Linked DNA regions of Homo sapiens. The protein of the gene in region 3 purifies or fractionates together with the protein of the main gene of each other region. This does not show direct contact. Each region holds a gene or a part of one and is shown on either strand. Other genes may lie near its edges.

What was found.
Region 1: the proteins of DTWD2 (region 3) and MFAP3 purify together in Homo sapiens (affinity purification with mass spectrometry; 3 studies listed by BioGRID and IntAct, with this or other methods). This does not show direct contact.
Region 2: the proteins of DTWD2 (region 3) and ZNG1A purify together in Homo sapiens (affinity purification with mass spectrometry; 3 studies listed by BioGRID and IntAct, with this or other methods). This does not show direct contact.
Region 4: the proteins of DTWD2 (region 3) and ZNG1F purify together in Homo sapiens (affinity purification with mass spectrometry; one large-scale study listed by BioGRID and IntAct). This does not show direct contact.

The regions. Positions count from the first base shown.
Region 1 is NC_000005.10:154,041,967-154,045,466, forward strand, and holds part of MFAP3 (microfibril-associated glycoprotein 3 isoform 1 precursor), read left to right. Parts: intron 1-3,500. UniProt on the Homo sapiens protein: Component of the elastin-associated microfibrils.
Region 2 is NC_000009.12:148,057-151,556, reverse strand, and holds part of ZNG1A (zinc-regulated GTPase metalloprotein activator 1A), read left to right. Parts: intron 1-129; exon of another isoform or gene 130-252; intron 253-831; coding exon of another isoform or gene 832-850; exon of another isoform or gene 851-3,500. UniProt on the Homo sapiens protein: Zinc chaperone that directly transfers zinc cofactor to target metalloproteins, thereby activating them.
Region 3 is NC_000005.10:118,985,748-118,989,966, reverse strand, and holds the start of DTWD2 (tRNA-uridine aminocarboxypropyltransferase 2), read left to right. Parts: upstream 1-1,419; 5' UTR 1,420-1,455; coding exon 1,456-1,673; intron 1,674-1,746; exon of another isoform or gene 1,747-1,817; coding exon of another isoform or gene 1,818-1,837; intron 1,838-4,219.
Region 4 is NC_000009.12:41,179,318-41,182,817, reverse strand, and holds part of ZNG1F (zinc-regulated GTPase metalloprotein activator 1F), read left to right. Parts: intron 1-351; coding exon 352-443; intron 444-3,500. UniProt on the Homo sapiens protein: Zinc chaperone that directly transfers zinc cofactor to target metalloproteins, thereby activating them.

The sequences.
Region 1 (3,500 bases), about 35 Mb from region 3:
GAAAACTAAGGCCTTGCAAGCCTATGGCTTCACCCAGGGGTAGGATCAGGCACCTTAACTCTAGAGCCCATTCTCCTAACCACTGAGCCATGATTGTCTTACAATTTTGATACTGCAAAACTGGAAGAATTGTCTGGCTATTATCTAAGCTGTTCATAAGCTGAACAAGTAGATCTGAGGGTAAGAGGAGTTCTGTTTTAACTAGACTGAGTTTCAAATAGAGATGTTTCAGACTATAGAGGGGGAAAAATGGCCTGGGAAGATCATAAATCTAAGCCTGTTTCATTGATGTTTTTGTCATTTGCATCCAGTAGCTATTCAGCAAATATACCTATGGCAAAAAGGATATAAGTTATGGGTATAACTGAAATAATCCTGGGTTTAAAGCAAAGCTCTGATAAATACAGACGATGTTTCTCCAGGTGCCAGAAGATATGTTGAAGTTTGAGCTCAGACTGACCAAATGCTAGTTATGGGGTATGTGATAGCTCCAAGGTAGTAATATAAAGGCTATTTTAATTAGAAACTTTTGAGTAAATGGCCCTCAGGATAGTGATTTCTGTTTGAATGTCACTAACCTTTTTTAGTTACAGATCCCTATAATAATGCTTGAGTCTAGGCAGAACAACTTTGTGTTTATTCTTTGCAAAGGGTAGGGTAGTGCTAACAACCTGCTCTTCATTTGCTTTTTCTCCCCTTTGCCGATTCAGAATGCTGCTTTGTCAATTTGTGTGCCTGCTGTAGGAACTGGTCCGTTTTCCAAGTGTGACAGTGCAGGCAGAGAAGGGTGGATGAGCTGTAAATGCAGCCTAGAACACATTTGATTATAGAGAATGAAGCACTAATATCCCAATATAATTGGAGTTTAAAAAAAAAAAATACCACCTGGGCATCAATGTGTTTCCCTGCTTTGCATTTTCCCAGAACTATTTCTGCAAACATCAGTTTCCTCAGCCAACTTAATATTGAGTCACCAGAACGGAAATCAGCCATATTACTTCCTTATTTGTGTTGAAAATTGGAACAGAATGGAAATATTTCTTCCCTCAGAAGTTGGCAGGAACGGCAACAAGACAATCTGTTAGGGGTGACAGCTATAGGCTCTTCTCTTTTTTAAAAATAATATAGTCAATATTCAACATGGTTTTCTGGGGTAAAATCATCCACATTTCTGATTCTTTATGATCCTAGCAAAGCTTACATTCTGTATACCTGAAAGATGAAAAAGGAGTTGGATTAAACTTGAGTCTTACACTTATCTATTACATTTTTATTTATTAATGCTGAAGAAAGGTAATATAGGCTGGGCGCGGTGGCTCACGCCTGTAATCCCAGCACTTTGGGAGGCCGAGGCAGCCAGATCACCTGAGGTTGGGAGTTCAAGATCAGCCTGTCCAACATGGAGAAACCCCGTCTCTACTAAAAATACAAAAAATTAGCCAGGCGTGGTGGTGCATGCCTGTAATCCCAGTTACTTGCGAGGCTGAGGTGGGAGAATCGCTTGAACCTGGGGGGTGGAGGTTGCAGTGAGCCGAGATCTCACCATTGCGCTCCAGCCTGGGCAACAAGAGCGAAACTCCGTCACACACACACACACACACAAAAAGGAAAGGTAATAAAAAATTTTATCAAGTAACTTCATCCACAAACATAGTATAGCCCTTTTTAACTGATAAGAAGAAGGTGACACTTTGGTTTTCCTTTTTGAAATCTGTTCTTGGGTTTCAAATGTCAGCTGCTACATTAAAAACAGCAGGCATAATATATATATATATATTTTTTTTTCCAAATACAAATGCACGTACTCTTGTGTCTCCCATGGCATCTAATATACCTGCCTTAATGACCTCAGCCCACTTAACTGATTTGGTGAACAATTCTGCATCTGAGGCTGTATATGTGAGGAAAAATTAAAGGATTGGAAATGAAAGTAAAATAACTATAGTATAAAGGATCATATGTTCAAAGCATGCAGGCCTAATATTATAGGAAGTCCCAAACATATAAGTGAATTGCATTCCTAGAACTGACACATTTGTCTTTTCTCTGTTGCATTCACAATATAATTACATTTCAGTCACATTGTCTTAGATACAGTTGGCTGTTTCTGGGCTGTCTTTCAAGCTGGTTTGTAAATTCCTGAGGGTCTAGGACAGTGTCCTAATTCTCCTTAGCAACTCTTGCACCACCTACTGTACTTCATCTTCCACGATGGATCCTTGACCTAGCTGAGCTGTAGTTTTAAAGTCATTAGTCTAGAATGAGCAGAATGGTCATAGTCAATGCAGTTTGTGCTGCAAGTAGCAGAAACCCATTCAAGCTGACTTAGCAAAAAGGAGACTTAGTGTGAGGAAATAATAGTACCCTGATACCAAGGATGATTTGTTCTTCCCTCACTATTTTTTTCTGCTTTGTCACCTTCTTGGACACGTATCTTTGCCAGTGTTTTCTCTCACAGCTGCTGAACAGCCTGTTACCTGCAAATGGGTTATATCCGTTAGTCTTTCAAATCAGAAGTCCTCTGTGTTCAGGATGTACATGGTATGAGTGAAGTGCCCAGTATTAACTGGATGTGTAAGGCTATTGTGCAGCCTCTTTCTCTTGTGGCTCAAAATCAGTGTGCCAGGTTTCTTCTGCCATGTTTGGCCTAAGAGCAGTTTAAGGGAGTTTATAGTGTTTTCCTAAATCCTGTCTGGTAGGTAGAGGCAAATGGCTATGTCTGTACAACACAAGAACCACAAATCTTGGCCACATGGGCAGTTTGCTTGCCACACTCCACTGTGTAAGGAAGAGACTAGAGATCTATGATGAAGATTGCCTGGCAGCCACAGACACAGTTCAATAACTTTTTGTGAACTTAATCTTTTTTCTCCTGCCTAACCATTTCCGCATTTATTACGTGTTTGCACATTCATCTTCACTTTTGTGGTTTTAATTTTGAGTAAAATTTAATAAAGTTGTTTCTTTTTTTAAAAAAAAAAAAGGGTCACAGGAGTGCCAGGAAGTAGAATTCTATCAGGCACCAAAGCACCATGTATGAGTCTCTCTTTGTCTTTCTCCTGCTCCTCTTCCTGTCTTCCCACTCTCTCCCTTCCCCATCCCTCTTGTCCTTTCTTACAGCTTCTCCTTGTATGTGGCCCAAACCTGACTGCCTCAGCCCCCACATGCCTCCTTTTCCTCAAATGACCCTGACCCACAAGGGTCTCAATTCCAAGTTCCAAGAACAAAGATTCTATTAGCTTACTTTGCCAATAGGTTGTCTTCCTCCTAGACCCAAGAAGATAGGGATAGGGCTCAAAGAGGGGAGCCGTTGGGTAAGTAGATCACGACAAATCTTCTCTACCACAAACTGAGGACACATACAATGTCATATCATGGTTGGGATCCAAGCTCAGTTTACAATGCCTATATGCTCCATAATATTGCAAAATATTTGCAATGAGAAAAAGAAAAATGTGAAATTTTAAATTTAAGATTAAAACTGCATAATGGTGTCCCCT
Region 2 (3,500 bases), on a different chromosome or scaffold from region 3:
TGTGAAGTGTATTTCTGTAGATTAAATTCTGTTTTCCATTGAATGTTATCTTAATTTCAGAAAATTTCTGTGCAGGGTTATTTTATTAAGCTCATTTTTTTTTTTTTTTTTTTTTTTTTGGTGAGAAAGGCTCAGCAGCTAATAGACTCAGCAACAGGCAGCCAGGAGCTCTGAGGCTCACAGCTGGCAGTCTAGTTCCACTCAGTCTCTACTGGAGAAATTCTTTCTTTGGAAGTACAGCAGAGGCCTTAGGTGAGTGGCTTGTCTGCTATGGCAGAGATTAGAGGTGCTGCCAGACTGCCATAAGTGTTAGGCAGTAACAGCAGCAGCTGCTTATATGCATGTGAACAGCTGGGGAATTAATTTGGTATGCATTCTCAGGAGCCACTCATCTGCTGGCAGAGGTAGCAGAAGAATGCCCTTAGTGTAAGTCCTCTACAACCATACACCAAATGTGCTCCCTGCATTTCAAATTCCATTGTAGAAAGTCTCTGATAATCTCACTTATACTATGAGCCATTCCTCAGTATCTGTCCTCTTCCTGTTAGTGTTCTACAATTCCTTTCTCCTTAATTTTTCTCCGCTTTACAAAATGTCACACAGACAAGTGCATAATACTTAAACAAGCTTTTAAAAATAATGCTCATAAATAGCTTTGGTTCTGTCATAATATTCGTATTTATAAACATTTTAAGTCAATTCTCTTCTTTTGTTTTCATTTCAGAAATATCCATGTCCTGAATAAAAGTTGTGTCTTGATTAGTTTATTATGTAACAATTTAGTGTGTTTGACATTTCTAACTTTTATTTCTAACATTTGCTTTATTATAGAACAATAAACATGCAGTGATTGATTTTTCTTACTTCAAGTGGATGAGTGAGCAAGTGACTAAAATCTTCTGTGAATTATTCAGTGTATGGTGCTTGCCAGTGCATCTGAGAATCTAGGGACTTTCTGAAATAGTACTTCCTTGCTATGAGGACTGAAGTTGCATTAGAATCCTTTTCAATGAAGATCAGATGTCCTGAGTACAATTCTTACTATTGGGTCCTGAATCTTACATTAAATATTCTCTCAAATTCCTTGAGGCATAGCAACTTGAGCTTACCAGTTTAGAAACTGGAGATTTGGGCTGGGCGCGGTGGCTCACGCCTGTAATCCCAGCACTTTGGGAGGCCAAGGTGGGTGGATCACGAGGTCAGGAGATGGAGACCATCCTGGCTAACACTGTGAAACCCCGTCTCTACTGAAAATACAAAAAATTAGCTGAGCCTGGTGGTGGGCGCCTGTAGTCCCAGCTACTCAGGAGGCTGAGGCAGGAGAATGGCGTGAACCCGGGAGGCGGAGCTTGCAGTGAGCTGAGATCGCACCACTGCACTCCAGCCTGGGTGACAGAGCGAGACTCTGTCTCAAAAAAAAAAAAAAAAAAAAAAACAAAACCGGAGATTTGGTTAACAAAATAGTCAAAGTCACTCTTATAGAAGTTTTGTTTTATTTTTTGTTTAAAATTTTTTTACCATTTTGTAGCTGACAAGTACTGACAATAAACTGCTATAAGCATGTGTAGAAAAAGGCTCACCTTGAGTAGTTAAGAGTAAGGAAAAGGAATAGTGTGTAGCATCGTCTTAGTGGTAAGACTTAAGTTGATTTAGTAGCAAATGGAAGTACTAGTGAACCACATAGATTTCAGAAGTAGGAGTAAAAGGTTAGAAGATGTGTCATTTTAATCTTCTCTAGACTTTTTCTTAATTTTTAGAAATGTAAGTGGACTGAACAGAGGAAAACCAAAACACAGCTGGTCAATAATAAGTTAAATTAATTTGACAAACTGCCTACTATGCATTTCATAGCATTTTAAGGACTATATAAGCAATGGATAAGGCAAAAACTCTGCCTTTAAGGAGATCAGTCATTGGGGGGAAACAGAAGCAAACAAACAAAAAGGCAACATAATAGATATTAATATTAATACAAGAATTTTAAAAGCACAGAGTTCTATAATAATAGGAAAATAGAGGGAATGATTGCTCAACTTTTCTTGAAAAAGAGTCAGGAAAATATTGACCGAGAAGACAGTCATTGACCTGAGTCTTAAAGAATGAATAAGGCTTTTACAGATGGAGTAGGGTAGGGATAACTTTCCAGGTATAAGGAAGATTTTGTATTCCAGGGACCTTTGAATTTTTTAGAATGGCTAGAAAACTTGGTATTATGTAGCACAGAAAAAGTGGTATGACTGAAGAGATAGAGAACTTACCACAAAGGGTCTTGAATGCCATGATACATAGTTTGGATTTTCTTCTGTAGGGAGCAAGGAGTTAGTGAAGGATTTTAAAAGCAACATGCCTCTTGGGAGGTAGATTCAATGTGAGGCTAATCTCCGAGGTATAGGAAATACAGGAAGGAGGAGCAACAGGTCGGGTAGTGGTGGAAGCAGGTTTGGAAAATGTGATTAGTTTTGTAAGCGTTTTTGAGTTTGAAGTGCCACTGGGGAAGGCTTTTGGAAATTTATTTCCAGAGTTCAAGACTGAGCTATCATTGCAGTTTGCTCAGCTATTTACTGAGCTATCTACTGTCAATTTGGATAGTATCTACAGTTTGCATTGTAGATACTGGATACTTGGATTGGCTGGTGCACCCTGTTTGTGAGACTCACTGGAGTTTGAAGAGATGACCACTGGAAAATATCCCTAAGCAGTAGCTGCAATTCCACCCCCACCTTGGAGAGCCAAAACCCTCTTCATTTTCACTCTCCTGTCCTTGGTCTTAGGCTACTTAAAGCAGCCTTTAGACATAGGGAAAAATTGAAAGCCTCTCTTTTAAGAAAAACATTAGGTACTTCTGGAATAGAGAGTTCAAGAAATTAGGAGAAAAATGAACTTTTGAAGCTTTTTCTTTCCCTTTTTTGTTTACTTCATTCTCTTACTCAGTTTTAAAATGCTGGTAATGGTCTTTTTTTTCTTTTTTTTTTTTTCTTGGCGATTTTAATGCTTTGGAAAAGATCTCATGGTTTTATCTCCAAAGGAGGAAATTAATTTGATGCCATGGAAATTAGTTTTCTAGTCGTATGCCTTGAATGAGTGAAGAATTTGTTTTTCATGGTGGTACTAAATTTGGGGAAAGCTATAGAAACTTTCATCTGGAAGCTTACACTTTTCCTCTTTTTTGAAAATTTGGTGAGAGACTTGGATATTTTATTGTTTTCTGTAAAAGAGTGTAATTTGTTGTACAGGTCTAATATTGATCCTTTTTTGGAAGTATGGAAAGAATCTGAGTATAAAGCAGAATTACCTCTGGATGGCATGTATTCTCAAGGACACTGTCACAGTGAAACAGTTTATTTAGAAGCTTGTGTTTCCAAAGTGTTGAATTTGATATTCACAAAATTGGCATGTGTAAACTTTATTAAACTTTAAGCTATTTCCTAAGATGAAGATGACAAACTTGGAGGGAAACTTCATTCATTTGGTTTATTTTTATTTTTATTTTTATTTATTTT
Region 3 (4,219 bases):
ATCATCTGTCTTCTCACACCACACAATTGGGAGTCTCAAGGGACCTTAGAGGACTTGAGCACATTTCACCTCTTGAAATTAAAGATGAGCAGCTTCCTTTCGTTTAAAGATAAGTCACATGAGAATTTAATTTTGGCAGTTAAAGAATTGGTTCCCCAACCTAAATCTACAGACAAGATGAATTTTCTGATTCATCTCCTTTCCTACAGTTTCTGGATTTTGTTTATCCTCCGATTCCAAATGGCATAATTGCTAGTTCTTTCTCCCACTCTACGTCCATCACCAGGTGGGTGTTTCAGCCTTTTTCTATCCCTCACATAGGACGCTCCAAAGGAAAAGAGAGGTGCTGTTTCCGGGGGGAAAGAACGTAGGATAGTTGAAAACAGCACGGTATTTTATTCACAAACTTGATTTTAAGATGACTGAAAAATCTAATGTGAAATAAACATTTTAAGAAATACAGTATTTGCTCTATTACTGTGTTGTCTACTTTGCCTCACATTTAATCTATTACAACTATAGAGTTAAGACAACTGTGATTCCTAAGCTTAATTCACATGATTGATCAAAACCAAGCTTAATTCTGTTTTAATGTTGTGTATTGCTGGAAGTAACACAAAGCATTAATAAACAAAAGGAATTCGATACCCATTTTGGGTAAATAGTATTTCTGCCTTCATTCTAACATAGATTTCATTTTGGCTTTTAAAAAACAGCTGCTGTGCTATATACCGCCGTATCCAGTAGTTGTTAAATACCTGGGCAACGTTACCTTTCTAGGGCTTGTTTCCTCATACATAAAACCTATTGGTACCCCGGGCCAGCTCTCCTATTGCTTCCTGATCGGGGACGATCTAAAAATCTAATTTAACAAATATCTGGTGTCCAGTGTAAAATAGCATGCTTGATGTCTTATTAGCACAAGACATAGAAGAGCAGGAAATTCACATAAGGAAACGGACCAGCTGTGAGTAGTTCCCAGTGGATATAACCTCTCCTTTGTTGGCCTTTAAATAATAAGTGCATCAGCTGCCGCACCTGCGATGCATGCACGCGTGGAAATCCTGCAAATTCTTAAACTGCCATCCCAAGGCGGAAAATGCAGAATTCCATTTTATTTTAACTTTTAAAGGAGTTAAATTCGGGCTTGGTACTGGGGTCCTCTCGGGGAGGTTTCCCTTACCTCTCCCAATGACGCTACTTAACCTCACCAGCACTCCAACACTGCCCACACTTGCCTACCCAGTTCTAGGTGAACGGTCCCACTGGGCACGGACCAATGGGCTCGTTCCTTCCCAGCGGCAGGGTGGGACCTCCAGCCTGGGCTTCGGAGACCCGCCCCCCGTACGTGGCGTGCGGGCATTGCGCTACGCGGCGCGGGCCGGTTTCTACAGCGCGTGGCGCCCCCCGGCGGCAGCCGGGCTTCAATGCCACGGCCTGACCGGAGTGTCCGCCATGGAGTCGCAGAAAGAGGCACGAACACTCCAGGAGCCCGTTGCGCGGCCTTCTGGGGCCTCAAGCTCTCAGACGCCGAACGACAAGGAGCGGCGGGAGGGCGGCGCAGTGCCGGCGGCGGCTGCCCTGGGCGCAGAGGCGGACGACGACAGTGCGGACGGGCTGTGGGAGCTGCCGGTGGAGCCGGCCGAGCGGAGGCCTGAGTGCACCCGCTGCAGGTGACCGCGGGGCTGGGGGCGGGGACTGCAGCCGGCAGCGGCCTTCGGAGGAGGGTGCGGCGCCCCCTGCCGGGGAGTCGGCGGCTCGGGCAGCTCTGCGATTAGGGCGGCGGAGTTGGCGGGTGCACGTTGGAAATCTCGGAAATGCCAGGCACAGCTACCTAGTAAGAAGCCCTTTTTCCAGGTTCATGATTATCTAACCTTACTTCCTGCAATATGCTGAGCGTATCATGGGATGAGCAGACATCAGTTCTGTTTCCAAGAAACTTAAGCGTCCAATAGGGGAAGTAAGGGGTGATGACAGTAATACTTGTAAAATAGTTACACAGTCATATTTAAGTGGCATAGTTATATCACAGTTAAAAAGCATAAAGTGGATTGGAGGAGAGAGACAGTCTCCTTTACCTATCCTACCAGAACTCTAAATATAGGGCCTTTTCAGGTGTTCATTCTAGGTTCTCTTCAAACCCTACATACGTCCCACTGGTAATTTATAAAATCAGTTTTCATGGTAAATTATCATCTATATCCCAGTGTGTCTAGCTCAGACCTTTCTTCGGAACACCAGACCTGTGCATTAATTTATCAGGTGTTTATTGAGTGCTTTGGTAATCACTGACAATGCAGTGGAGTTCATGTTTTTGTAGAGTATTCTCTTACTGGATACGGATAATAAACCAGCAAACAAGCAATCAAATATGTAATTACAAACTGGGAAAAAAGCAGTGAAGGAAAGGAATGGGTTGCTACTGTAGAAAATAGCTCAATGGTGTCATGAACTATCTCTGAGATTTGAAAGATGAGAAGAATCCAGCCAGGGGAAAAGCATTCCAAGAAGGGGAACAGAAGGACTGAATATGGTTGAAGATCTTTACTGCTTGAATACTTGGAGTATCACACTTTGGACATTTTGACCTTTTCCTAGGGCTGGATTGTAAGACTTCAGAGGAAAGGATCTTGAATGTAGAATGTTTTTATATTTTCTAAATGTACTATGTATAGTTGACGCTCAGTAAACCTCTGAGGAGGATGGAAAATTTGTGATTAGAAGGGACTGTGAATTTGAACATAGGGGTTTGTGAATACAATTAATTTAAACAAGTCGTCTGAGGGGGTTGGGGAAGCATTTAAAAATGTTTGGAGGGGTCTCAATAGGATACTGGAGGAAAAGTGTTTCAAATATAAATCAAAGGCTAAATTACTGTGCTAGTTTTATTTAGTTTTTAGTCTGTTCAGAATTGTTAATTATAAATATATAGGTAAAAATCTGTTTAGCAGAGATTTATTTTATGATGCTTTTTTAAAAAAATGGCTTGCTGAATTTAATCTTTTTTTCAGTTACGTTTAGTTAATACCTTAGGATTACAATTTTCCCCAACATTTCTGCACTTTGCTTATTTCTGGTGAAATTTGCTACCTGTGAAAAGCTCTCCTCCCTCTTGCTATGCATTTTATTTGCTTTAATTAGGTAGACTATAATTCTACACTTTGCTTATTTCTTGTGAAATTTGCTACCTGTGAAAAGCTCTCCTCCCTCTTGCTATGCATTTTATTTGCTTTAACTAGGTAGAATATAATTCTAGAATTATGGAGAATATTTAGGTGTTGTCAATAAAATATAAATGAATTGATGGCTTTTTATATTTTATTTCATTATGCTATTAGAGTTCTACTAGTACCCTGGGTGAACTTCTTTACATTTATGGTTAAAATAGTTTTAAAAATGCATTCTTAGATTTGATTGATCATTGAGTCACAGTTATTTGGCTATTTACTTAAACTGTATTCATTTCTCTGAACACATTACTACAAATGTCACAGCCTAGGGGAGTTCCAGAAATTAGCTTTGTTCAGGAAGTGCAAACTCAGTTTAACTTTTCAGCAGAATCTTGCTCATTATAAATATAACATATCTTAAATATGAATGGAATATTCTTTAAAAGATCCCAAACTTGTAATTTATTATTGCAAGATATAGATTCTATAAATGTATTCTGTCCTTTATGTATGTCTTGTTTACAAAACCTGCCTGTATTCCATTTACCTCTTAGAATACCTTTCCTATCCCCCATTCCCAAACGTATATAATTTTTTTTTTCAGATAAAGACAAAACCTTGGCTGATCTCCCCAGAGTATGTATCATTAGCATTATTTGAGATAACATAAGAAGGCTGAGGGTCATGGGACATGGTAGGTGCACAAAAGATTTGTTGAACTACTTGGTAAAATTCAGTTGTTCAACAAATATTTTTGGAGACCCTTCTTCCAGACGGTGTGATAGGCTATGAAATACAAAGATGAAAAAGAGATGACTTCAGTTCTCCTGAATATCAGGATCTAGTGGAAAGTGGCATATCTATTTAAATGGGGAGCCCTCAGATTAAAAATCCTATGATGTAGGGCAGTTTTTTCAAATTATAGGTAATGAACCGCATCAAATTTTTGAAGCTCTGAAGAAAACAGCAAAAAGTGTTTTCTGAACTTTTCAAAGTAAAAGTATTTGTAAAATAACTTTGTTCAAGTTAAAATCATCTTGCTAATTTAA
Region 4 (3,500 bases), on a different chromosome or scaffold from region 3:
TATTAAACTACTATAGTTAATAAATTTTATCATTATTTTGTATGTTGGTTTTTAAAAATTTCATAAAGCTATAAAAAGATACTTGGTCAGATAAAGTTTCCTCTGCTTTTAATTTTAATAAAGTATTATTATGTATATGATTTCTTTTTACCTATTATATATATGCATCTATTGTTTTCTCACTGGTAAATATGGGACAGACATTTTGTTAGAAGGTTAGAAGTGAGTTAAATTTTCACATTCCTAAGGATACTTTTGTCTCGGGTTGTTGAATACATTTTAAAGTGTTTATAATAATCACTTCAAAATATTTAGGTAATTAACTGTAAATTATGTTTTGGTATTCTCCAGGGACAATGGCCTTAGAGCTATTGAGAATTTGATGCAAAAGAAGGGGAAATTTGATGACATACTGTTAGAGACCACTGGATTAGCAGACCCTGGTAAGAAGTGAGATTATTAATAACCAGAATATAGTTCTGTGATATATTGTAAATAGATGTATTAGAGGAATATCTAAAATGAGTATTAAAGCTTTTGTTAGTATTAAACCAAAAACTTTTTTTGGTTTAAAAGAGGAAAAGTACTTGGTTGTCATTTTCTTTGGCAGTTGAATGAATGATCAGAGTATTTCTTGGTGCTTTTAAGCTGTTAATAGAATTTGAAGTTTTATTGATTGACTTAGGATTATTTGTAAGAACAGAAGTTGTTAAAAATAAGGACATGTAGGAAGAGCAGAGACGTTCTACCTCTAAGTACAGTTGTCCCTTGGCATCCATGGCGTATTAGTTCCAGAACCTCTGAGGATACCAAAATCTATTAATGTTCAAGTCCCTTACATAAAATGGTGTAGTATTTGCCTATAACCTATGCACATCCTCCCATATACTTTAAATCATCTGTAGATTACTTATAATACCTAATACAATGTAAGTGCTGTGTAAGTAGTTATTATACTGCATTGATAAGGTAATCATGACAAGAAACTCTAAACTCTACTATGGAAAGCTACACAGAGTCAACCTGTTTCTCACAATGGGTTTCTGTTACCTTCTTACCAAGCTCTAATTCTTGATAAAGTCTGCTTATTTTCCCCAAATAACTTTTAGATAAAATCTTTATTTTCAGTTTGCATAAAAGTTAGTGCTTATTCTGTGAATCTGACCCATACCATTATTTTCTTTTTGATCTGGGTCTCTGGCATTGGGGCGATTTGTAAAACTATATTAAAGTATTTGGGGGTAATTTACTAAACAGGTCATAGTTGTCCAAAAGAAATATTGAAGTATCCTGAGAGTTCAAATGTGATCAGTGGTTATTGTACTTAAAACAATTACGTAGTAACATCATCCCCATGTTTTCAAAGTAGTATTGAATTAGGCTATTTTGGTCCTTATAGTAGGCATGGGTTTTCATACCTTTCTGATAAATCTGACTGATGATAGGACTTGGACTAATATGTTGGCGTTAAATATTATTTGAATCTGGTAAGAAAGAATATATTGTATGCTTTTATTAGAAATAGCAAATATCAGTTTATTTCATCATAGCCAGTTTTGCCATTTTATAGACAAAAACTTGATACTTTTGAGAGTTTAATTAAACACGATTCAGCTTTTCAGAGGAAGAAAGAAAAACTAAAGATCACAGAGAAAGCTTTTATACAAATTGTAGTTATAAAAAATGTTAATGTTTCTTGCTTCTAACTTTCTTTACAATAAAGATTTTATTGTTTGGGTAAAGATGGAACATTCATTGTAAAAAAATTTAAATACCTAAAAAATACAAAGAAGAAAGTTGAAAAGTAATCATCTCACTATTGTGATATACAAGTAAGGGCTGGGCATGGTGGCTCATGCCTGTAATCCCAGCACTTTGGGAGGCTGAGGCAGGTGGATCCCTTGAGGCCAGGAGTTCAAGACCAGCCTAGCCAACATGGTGAAATCCAGTCTCTACTGAAAATTCAAAAACTAGCCAGGCGTTGTGGCGCACCCCATAATCCCAGCTACTCAGGAGGCTAAGGCATGAGAATCGCTTGAAAGCTGGGAGGCGGAGGTTATGGTGAGCCGAGATCACGCCACTGCACTCCAGCCCAGGCAACAGAGCAAGACTGTATACACACACACGCACATGCACACGCACACACACACACACACATTCATACACACACACACAAGTAGGTAAATTTTATTCCAGGGATCTCTCTATGCCAGTGCTACTTGGTAGTATGTTGAATGGCAGCCTCAGCCTCAGCTGGGAGCTTGTTAGAAATGCAAATTCTTGACCAACCCAGATCTACTGAATCGGAATCTCTAAGGGAGGGGGTCAAGCAAGCTGTTTTTAATAAGCCCTTCAGGTGATTCTTATACTGTACAGCCATACCGCAGGGATATTGTGGGCTTAGTTCCATATCACTGCAGTAAACTGAATATCACAATAGAGTGAGTCACACACATTTTTTTGTTTCCCATTGCATATAAAAGTTATGCGTTTTGGCCGGGTGTGATGTGACAGGCCTGTAGTCCCAGCTACTTGGATCACTTGAGCTCAGGAGTTTGAGGCTGCAGTGAGTCATGATTGCACCACTGCACTCCAGCCTGGATGACAGCATGAGACCCCATTTCTTAAAAAAAAAAAAAAAAAAAAAAAGCTGTGTTTATACTATACTGTAGTCTATAAAATGTGTAATAGAATTGTCTAAAAAACATACATACCTTAATTAAAAATATTTATTGCTAAAAAATGCTAACGATCATCTCAGCTTTCAGCAAGTCATAATCTTTTTGCTGGTAGAGGGTCTTGCCACAATGTTGATGGGTGCTGACCAATCAGGGTAGTAGTTACTGAAGGTTGGGGTGGCTATCGCAATTTCATAAGATAATAATGAAGTTTGCTGCATTAGTTGACTCTCCCTTTCATAAAATATGTCTCTATAGCACATGATGCTATTTGATAGCATTTTACCCACAGTATGACTTCTTTCAAAATTGGAGTCAGTCCTCTCAAACCCTGCTTTATCAATTAAGCTTCTGTCATATTTTAAATCCTTTGTTGTCATTTTGACAGTGTTCATAGCATCTTCACCAGGAGTAGATTCCATCTCAAGAAACCACGTTCTTTTCCCGTCCATAAGAAACAACTTCTCATTAGTTAAAGTTTTCTTATGAGATTGCAGGAATTGAGTCACATCTTCAGACTCCCCTTCTAATTCTAGTTCTCTTACTGTTTCCACCATATCTGCAGTTATTTCCTCCGTTGAAGTCTGAAATCCCTCAAAGTCATCTGTGAGGGCTGGAATCATCTTTCAAACTCCTATTCATGTTGATACTTTGATCTCCCATGAATCACGAATGTTCTTAATGGCATCTAGAATGATGAATCCTTTCCAGAAGGTTTTCAATTTACTTTGCCTAGATCCATCAGAGGAATCACTATCTATGGTAGCTATAGCCTTATGAAATATATTTCTTAAATAAGACTTAAAAGTCAAAGTTACTCCT